Regions from separate parts of the Homo sapiens genome. Here region 1 is linked to region 2. A link means that fine-mapping ties the variant in region 2 to the expression of a gene that starts in the linked region. Tissue or cell type: nasal epithelium. Region 2 holds a variant in brackets; the other region holds the start of a gene. All regions are shown on one strand. Distances are between the middles of the regions.

What was found. PIP is the estimated chance that this variant, and not a neighbour inherited with it, causes the effect.
Region 1: it holds the start of DYNLT5, and the variant in region 2 is fine-mapped to the expression of DYNLT5 in nasal epithelium (TOPMed, PIP above 0.99). The same link has a PIP of 0.9 or more in skeletal muscle and unexposed skin.

The regions. Positions count from the first base shown.
Region 1 is chr1:66,749,908-66,754,154 of GRCh38, forward strand. DYNLT5 (dynein light chain Tctex-type family member 5) reads left to right here and starts at 2,552. Exons shown (of 5, transcript NM_152665.3): 1 at 2,552-2,677. It overlaps SGIP1 (SH3GL interacting endocytic adaptor 1), which reads left to right. Exons shown (of 25, transcript NM_032291.4): 25 at 1-1,232.
Region 2 is chr1:66,771,423-66,775,669 of GRCh38, forward strand. All of the region lies in intron 3 of DYNLT5 (dynein light chain Tctex-type family member 5), which reads left to right. Among named protein-coding and RNA genes, the nearest start is that of DYNLT5, 21 kb to the left of the region's middle. The variant T/C (reference allele first, on the strand shown) is at 2,357.

The sequences.
Region 1 (4,247 bases), 22 kb before region 2:
AGCTGTGTTGATTTTTCAGGTCAGAATTTAGTTCTTGCTTTGTTAAATGGACATACATGAAAGAGATTGGCTCCTATCTAATTCATATTCTCTCTCTCTCTCTCTCTCTTTCTCTGTGTGTGTGTGGGGGTGTGTGTGTGTGTGTGTGTGTGTGTGTGTGTCTCTTTCCTCTCTGTCTAAGGGGAATTGGAAAATTGCTGCTGAATAATTTTTCTTGAAAAAGCCAAGTGTTGATATGATGATATATTAATCTTATCTATGAACAGAGCTTCACCACAGGCCAAGCAGTAATGTATACAGCTGGCTTTTTAAGCTGTTTGAACACTATTGTTTTCGATTAAAAAGAGTTTTTGTTTGTTTTTCACTTGTATAGTAAAAGATCATATGAATTAAATACTCGGATATTAATTTTCATTCTTACTAAGTGGCCATGTAAGGCATTGATTTTTTTTAAACTTGAACAATGCAAGAATCTAGGAATCTCAGAAAGATTTTGCTGTGTTTCTATAGGTAATGAAATCCTGTCAATTAAGGAAAATGCTGTGTGTAATTTGATTTGGTGGTAGCCTTTATTTAGAGCTCTCTTTGATCTATGTAGCAAAAATACACTAAATTTCTTTTTAATCTTGTACTAAGTACATAATTTCACAAAAATACCTTGGGCATAAAATACTTACAAAACTGTGAATTAAAATACTCAAGATACTTTCAAAATTTAGTCAAAATGTTGATTCCCAGCCTTTTTCCTACACGTCTATTTCAAAAGAGTATACTTTTTTCTGACAGCCATTACTGCTTAGTCTGTAATGAAAGCTTTACTGCTTCTATGCTGTGCTCAAGAGAAAACCAACAACGGAAGCGAAGACTTACTTGCTCCTTCACAGAATTGCAGCAAAGCTCTCTGCTGGGCAATGGTGACAGGAAAGTGTGTAATTGACTTGTTGAAGATAATCATGAGACCATCTTAACATTACTTGCCTTATAAGTTAGAAATAGTATGGATATCACTCTTTGTAAATAATAATTTTTGTAAATGTTTTTTGTTCATAATTTTCCCAATCACCTATTTCACAAAATCCTGAATATGCAATTATTTATTATGACACGTTACTGCAACTAGGGCTCCCATTCCAGAACAAAGTTTAATTCTATATGTAAGTTGTTACTGAAATGTGATTTCTTTTTCTGGAAAATAAATGAAAAATATGAAAATAAATTGAATTGTGAATATCTTTTGCTGTCAGCCTCTTAAAATTTTACCCGCATTTCTGGAAAACTTCATTCCATGTTTAGGGTAGGGATGGTGGGCCAAAGGTCTGTCAAAGGTCAAGGGTTAAGAGTTAGACAAATTTCAGCTCTGTGATTTAAATATCGACTTGAGCATGTTACTCAACGATTCTACATTTCCTTATCTTAAAAAAAAATAGAGTAATGTCCCCTATGTCATAGTCACTGAACAAATTCAATGAGATAATGTTTATTCATCACCTAGCAGTTCCTATCTAGTCCATAGTAGATATTCAATCAACAATCCTTTCCTGTTCTTATCTTTCTGTGAGTAGAGATTGGGATGGGCAAAAATATCTATTTCTCTTCTTCCAACACTATCCTAACACTGTGCTCCACCGGAATCCCAATGTATTACTGTCAGCTAATGCTAATTCCAGCAGGACACTCATCAAGAGCCATGCCCTTGGCTAGATGCTTGGAGGCATCTTGTTTCTGCTTCCAATGATTGCCCACTACAGGAGGGTCCCTATAGTGTTTATTTTGTTTGCTTTTGGTTTGGGGAGGCCCAAACCAGGCTTAGGCTGGGGATAGTCGCTGAAGAAGAGGAAAAGCCCATTCATACCAGCAGGTAGGTCCTCAACCCCAAACAGCCTCATTTCAAAGCTTCTTAGACATTAACAGGCTCAGAAGAGTCTTGTTAAGGAAAGCGAAGGAACCCAGCCCGGTTTGTAACACATTGGAGTTAAGACCATGAGTTTCAGGGGCCTTGGGCATATTATTTAACATTTTAGAATCTCAATTTTCCAAATCCTTTAAAGGGAAAACATTCCTTTCTTGACAGAGTTATTGGGACGACTAAATCCCAATGTTTGTCGGTATCTGGGGTATCTGGCCAATGTAAGTGCTCATTTACCTCCACATTCCACCGCCTGTGCCTTGGAGGGGGAACGTGCGAAGCAGCGTTAGGAGCCGGGAAAAGGGCAGGGCTACTTTACTTTGTCTTTGCGCTTCGGATTTCCTGTGCTAGGAAACCGCAGCACTTCCCACTCCTGCCCCTGATGTCTGCGGGAAAAGGAACTTGATGAGGGGCCCTAGGGGTGCAAATGTCTTTAGTCCCAAATGTCTTCCTCGCTACACAATGAACCAGTTCCCCTCCAGCTCGCCGCCAACCCAGGACGCAGCCCGGCTCAGAGTGACCCCCAGTGGGCAGTGAAGATGAGATCCTCTACATCCTTAGGGCAGCTCAGAGGGCCACTCAGCGGCCAAGTCCGGCCGGGGAGGGCCGAGGGCTCTGTTTGAGGTCACCCTGGAGACCGGCCTCAGAGTCCAGGGAGAGTGCGCGGGCGGCCGCCGGCTGAATGAAGCCTGGGACGCGGGAGCCGCGCCGCGCGCAGTGTCTGCAGTGCCGGAGGTCTGGGAGGCTCCGGGCGAAGCCTCCCTGCTGCAGGTAGGGTCGCCTCTCTCTGCAGCGCGTCTGGACCCCAAAGGAAGGATAGGGGGCAAGGGATCGGCCCTTTGTTGAGAAATGGCCCTACTTGGCCCCGATCTCTCCGCCACCTTATTCCTCCTCTCCCCAACACATAAGAAAAAATGATCCCAAATTTGGGAACTGAAAGTCGGTCCCAACGGTTCGTCCCCTGCCCCATTGCATGGCTGGGGGCTGGGCTTCAAGAGTGATGGCCAACGCAGAGCCGGCCAGCAAGGTCATCCCCTGACCCGGGGCGGTCTTCCTGTGGCTGGCCGCACCCATGAGGACCTCCAGGTCCCAACTCTGGCCTTTCTTGGGGAGGGGGCGGCCTGCAGGGCAGCTTTGGAAACAGCTGAGGCCGAGATGGGTCTATGTGGCTTTGCAGCAAAACCTGAATGACCCACCTAATCAGGCTGTGTGTCTTTCCACACTCATAAACACACTCACCTTCGTACACACGAACACAGACACACTTATACACACAGGCACCTGCACACACAGAGATGCACACTCACAGGTACACACTCAAGGACGCTCACACTCACGTGCACACACACACCACGCTGCCTGCCTCACCCACACACAGCACCTCTGCTCTGACATTGATGCCACTGGGTTTTAGGGTATGTTCTTGTGTGCCCTACCTACTCAACTGCCAGCTCCTTGAAGGCATGGATTCTCTTCTATTTTTATGCTTTGGTGTCTAGCACAGTATTTCCTTATCGGGGCTCTCACATTTATAGATTATGAAATAATTTAAATGAATACTTAAATTTGTAGGTAGACAATGAGGGCATTATTAGAGTTATAGTCCAAGTTCTGGGAAGTCCATTGCTACTACCAGCTTTTTAACAAGTATTAGTAGGAAGGAGGGAGTTTTCCAATAAATTATTTATTTAAAAGTTAAGTCCTATTTGCTCTTTACAAACTATGTAAATGTTGCTCGAGAAAACAAAACAAACAACAAAAAATCTTTGGGAAAGCAAGGTTAATTTTAATTTTTATTTATTTATTTATTTTCTAGCTCCCTACCCCTAATTTTATTTTTTAAAGTCATGGTGGGTCAGGCACAGTGGTTGATGCCTGTAATTCCAGCACTTTGGGAGGCCAAGGCAGGAGGATCACTTAAGGCCAGGAGATTAAGGCCAGCCTGGGCAACACAGAAAGATCTTGTCTCTACAAAAATGTTTAAAAATTAGCTAGGCATGGTGGTGCAGGCCTGTAGTCCTAGCTACTAGGGAGGCTGAGGTGGGTGGACCGCTTGAGCCCAGGAGTTTGAAGTTACGGTGAGCTATGATCATGCCACTGCACTCCAGCCTGGGTAACAAGAGCTAGATCCTGTCTCTAAAATAATAAAATAGGCCAGGTAGAGTGGCTCATGCCTGTAATCCCAGCACTTTGGGAGGCTGAAGCAGGATTGCTTGATCCCAGGAGTTCAAGACCAGCCTGGGCAACATAGACCCTATCTCTACAAAAAATTAAAAATTAGCCCAGCTTGATGGCATACACCTGCAGTCCCAGCTACTCAGGTGGCTGAGTTGGGAGGAAC
Region 2 (4,247 bases):
GGCTTTATAGATAGAGCAGTGACTGATTCTAGGATGGCATATAACCATGGTGAATCCAATCAAAGACTTTGAGATTAAATTCAGAAAATGTTGTTTGGCCTGTTGCAGAAGAACATAAAGCCCTGAAACTTGAAGGAATGTAGGGGCTCTGGCAGGATCTGCCACCTTGCCCTGACTTGAAACTGAGAGAAAACAACAGAATCCTGGTGTCATCATTTGAGTCCTAAATCCAATTGGCTACCCTTTAACTTTTCAGTTAGGCAAGCTAAGTTTGGGTCAGGTTTTCCCTCACTTGCAACTAAAAGTTCTTAGCCATGGGGTGTCTATGACTTTGAACTGTGCATGCTGGAAGGGTTTGAATCAGATTTGAACAAGACAGGGCCAGTGAAATGTGAATCTCTGTGTTTCTACATAAGGATATTTTTTGCAACTTGTTTTCTCAAATAAAGCATCTTATCAGTTTTAGAAGTACTGAGTATGAACCACATTAGAAAAGTAATTTTAGAAAAAGCTTAGTATAGATGAAATATACCTGTATTTTCCTACAATAGTCTATGTGAATTTTTTAATAATTAAAATATTTTATGCTTGACAATTCCCTTTTTATAGCATTCAACCAGCCATTTTATTAATACTTAATCAAAACTGTGTTTCCACTTCTACTTGTTTCTGGGTTTATTTCACATATGAAAGGTATTTTGTGAGTGTATTAGTCCGTTTTTGCATTGCTATAAAGAAATACCTGAGACTGTAATTTATAAAGAAAACAGGTTTATTTGGCTCATGGTTCTAGAGACTATACAGGAAACGTGGTGCCAACATCTGCTTCTGGTAAGACCTCAGTAAGCTTTTAGGCATGGCAGAAGGGAAGGAGAGTTGGCATGTCACATGGCAAGAGAGGGAACAAGAGAGGTGCCAGGCTGTTTTAAACACCCAGCTCTCATGTGAACTAATAGAGGAAGAACTATAGAGCAAGAACTCAGTAATTACCGCTGGGACAGCACCAAGCCATTCATGAGGGATCCACCTTCCTGGCCCCAACACCTCCCACCAGGCCCCACCTCCAACACTGGGGATCACATTTCAATATGAGATTTGAAGGGGACAAATATCCAAACTATATCAGTGGGACTTTGGTAAATAGTTTATCATATCTTTACAATGTAATACTGGCCAGAAAAGTAGAGGGAAATATCAGCCAATCACCAGCACTATTATGTTTAATTAATTTTTCATTCCATTCAATAATGTTTGCCTCATCTAAACACATCTTAAATGAGAGCATTTACATAAATAATTACAGCTACAAAAAATGAGATGAAACATGAGTATCATTCATGAGAGGAGAAAAGGGAATAGAAAAGGAAAGTGTGTTTCTTTTAATAAAATACCATTTATATATTTCTCATTAATTACTAAAACAAATATAAAAGAAAATGCAGGCTGTGGCATCTGTCGTATCTGAATTTGAATACTAATTTTGCTAATTCCTTGAGCAAGGTATTTAGCATCATTGAATCTCAGTGTCTTCACTTGTAAATAGGGATAATAGTCTATACATCACATGGATGCTATGAGACTCAAATGATGTTATATGTTTAAATCTCTCCATTCATCATGTTACTACTCCTGAAAGTGACTGACTCAAGGACCTTACTATAGATCACTAAGAATAAAAGCCTTCCATGATATTCATTGTAACTTCATATTAATTATGGAATAAGTTTTCCACAGGACTTTTTCTGGAACTGAGTATAGTGGCACCTGGTTGTTTGCAAACATGGACTGCGAGCACCGAGCCAAACTAGATTGGCGGCCATCTTTGCTACCACATCAAGACAGCCTGCCTTGAGAATGAAGCCAGCACAGTAGAAAGTAGATCCAAAATATTGAGAGAGAAAGAGAGAGATTATTTGAGTTCAGCTTCCATGAAGTGCTCAGGCCCTGTCTCTATGTCAGGTTTTCTTAGAGCCTGTCAATCTCTCAGCATTGATTTTACACCACCACATGGGGTCCTTCCTAATCCCACAGGCCTCACTGTCTCCAGACTTACGTCCTCTTTCATCTTGCTGCCTTCTCAGCAAGGTAAATCCCCAATTCTTCCTTCAGCATGCAATAACTACAATAACAGCAATAACACTAATAAGATCACATATCTAAGGAGTGTTTTATTGTGTGACAAGCACTGTTCTAAACATATTCAATTTATTGTCTCATTTAATTCTAACAAAAAAAAATGTAGTAATTATTATTATTACCCCAATGTGGGGTAGTGGAGGCCCACATACATTAAGTAAACTTATCTTTATCTACTTTTTAAGGACAAGTTTTGTTTGTTTTTAAAATTTTTTTTGTC[T/C]TGATCCTTCAGGTCTTTGCCTTTTGATTTCTAAAACACGTTTTTTCTCCTAAGGAAAAAAAAAATCTCGAGAAAGAAGAAAAGCTTTGCCATTCACATCAGTTTACTCTGAAACTAGTTTTAGGAGCTTATTTCAGAAGTCAGAAACTGAACATTGATGGATGATTCTGGATGTTTAGGGGAAAGGTAACAAAGAAGTAAGAAAAGAATACTTCATTACCATATTTCAAAGTATTTTCAAAACAGGATCTGGTTAATGACTTTTTTTTTAATCTAAGCGAAGTATGGAAAGGACATTGGTAGCACTGTACAACGGGAACTACTGGAAACAGACTCAAGTGCCACCAGGACCCTCTTTCCAGCACTAACCTATGTGCACTTTCTTCTCTTTTGGTGGCCTGGCCTCCTTACCACCATGAAAAACATGTCCTCCAGCAGGTCCTCAGAGTCACATGGTAACTTTTGCCACCAGAAAGAGGCTGACTCTTTTTTCCTACTTGCAGTTTAAAATAAAAATTCCAAAAAAAGACTCTCATTGTCCTGGCCTAGAGCATTGTCACCCTGGGTTAATCAACCATGCCCTAGGCTTGGGTTCGCAGGAGATGATGGGGAGATCTTTAAGAACCACTTTCTAGATTCAATCTCCACCCCCACCCTTCCACGATTTAAGTGGAATTCAACAATTTCTATATTATCATCAAAATAAAAATAACGATTTATAGAACCTCAAGAGGCTCACCTAACTGAACTGCAGTCAGAGGCTGTAACCTTCTGGTTAAGTTCAGCCAGTGGGAAACCTCAGCTGAGAGGCAGAGGGAGTGAGAAGTGTGAGGTGGAGCTGTTTATTTCCCTGGCTCCTGCCTGTGAGTTCATCACAGCCTGGTTACATTCTTCAACCAAAGGACAGAAACTGCTCCCAAGGGAGCCCTCTCCACATGACCCTTCTGGGATCTATTAAAAGCTCTTCCTCTATTCCCCAATCTTGGGGTGGGAGGGGTGGGCTGACAACCTTACTTTCACTGGCTGAGGGGTGCTGCACTATCCCTTGTGATTTTCTACAGCCCACTCAGAACTTCCTCCTGGAATTATTTTAACTATAGGGTGCCATATGTTTCATTTGACCCTGACAGATACAGTCATCACAAACAAACACTTATTACTAGATATTGACATATATTAAAAGAGAATTGAATAGAATTCTTGATCTCATTCCTTCATCTTTATCAATTCAACAAATAATGACTGGGCTTCTGTATGCCAGGCCCTGGGCACATGTTCATGTCATGCAATGACATTAGTATATGACCAAAGTGATGATATGGCTAATATTCCTGGGATGCAGGAGGAAGAAGATTCATTTGAAGCTTCTCCTCTGAACGTGGATGAAATGTGGTCGAGAATATAAGCTCTAGCATCAGATAAACCTGGGTGTGCACCCCAGCTCTGCCTCTCTGTGTGATTCTGGGCAGGTTACTCAATGTATATAAATCTCTGTTTCCCCACCTGCCAAATGGAGATAACAGTGAGATTCACCTCAGAGATCTATTGGAAGACTATATAAGGTAATATGAAGTGCTTATCGCACTGCCTGACATGTAGCAACGGCTTAATAAAAAGTATTCATTATTATATATGTATACAATATACAGTCATATATCATATATAATGATTATCTATAAAATTTAATTCTATTTAAATTCAGAAATCATACATTAAAAATTTCTTATGCCTTTAGCATTGTATTAGACTCTGAGGAGGATAAAATCCGAGCTTGCTTACCATTTCACTGGAAACGCAGGTATGCTTTAGCCAATATCAAGTGGATTAGGAGCCAGGATGGCAGTGGGGACCCAGTGCATGGAAAGGAGGGACATTTTTACCTGAGAGGAGG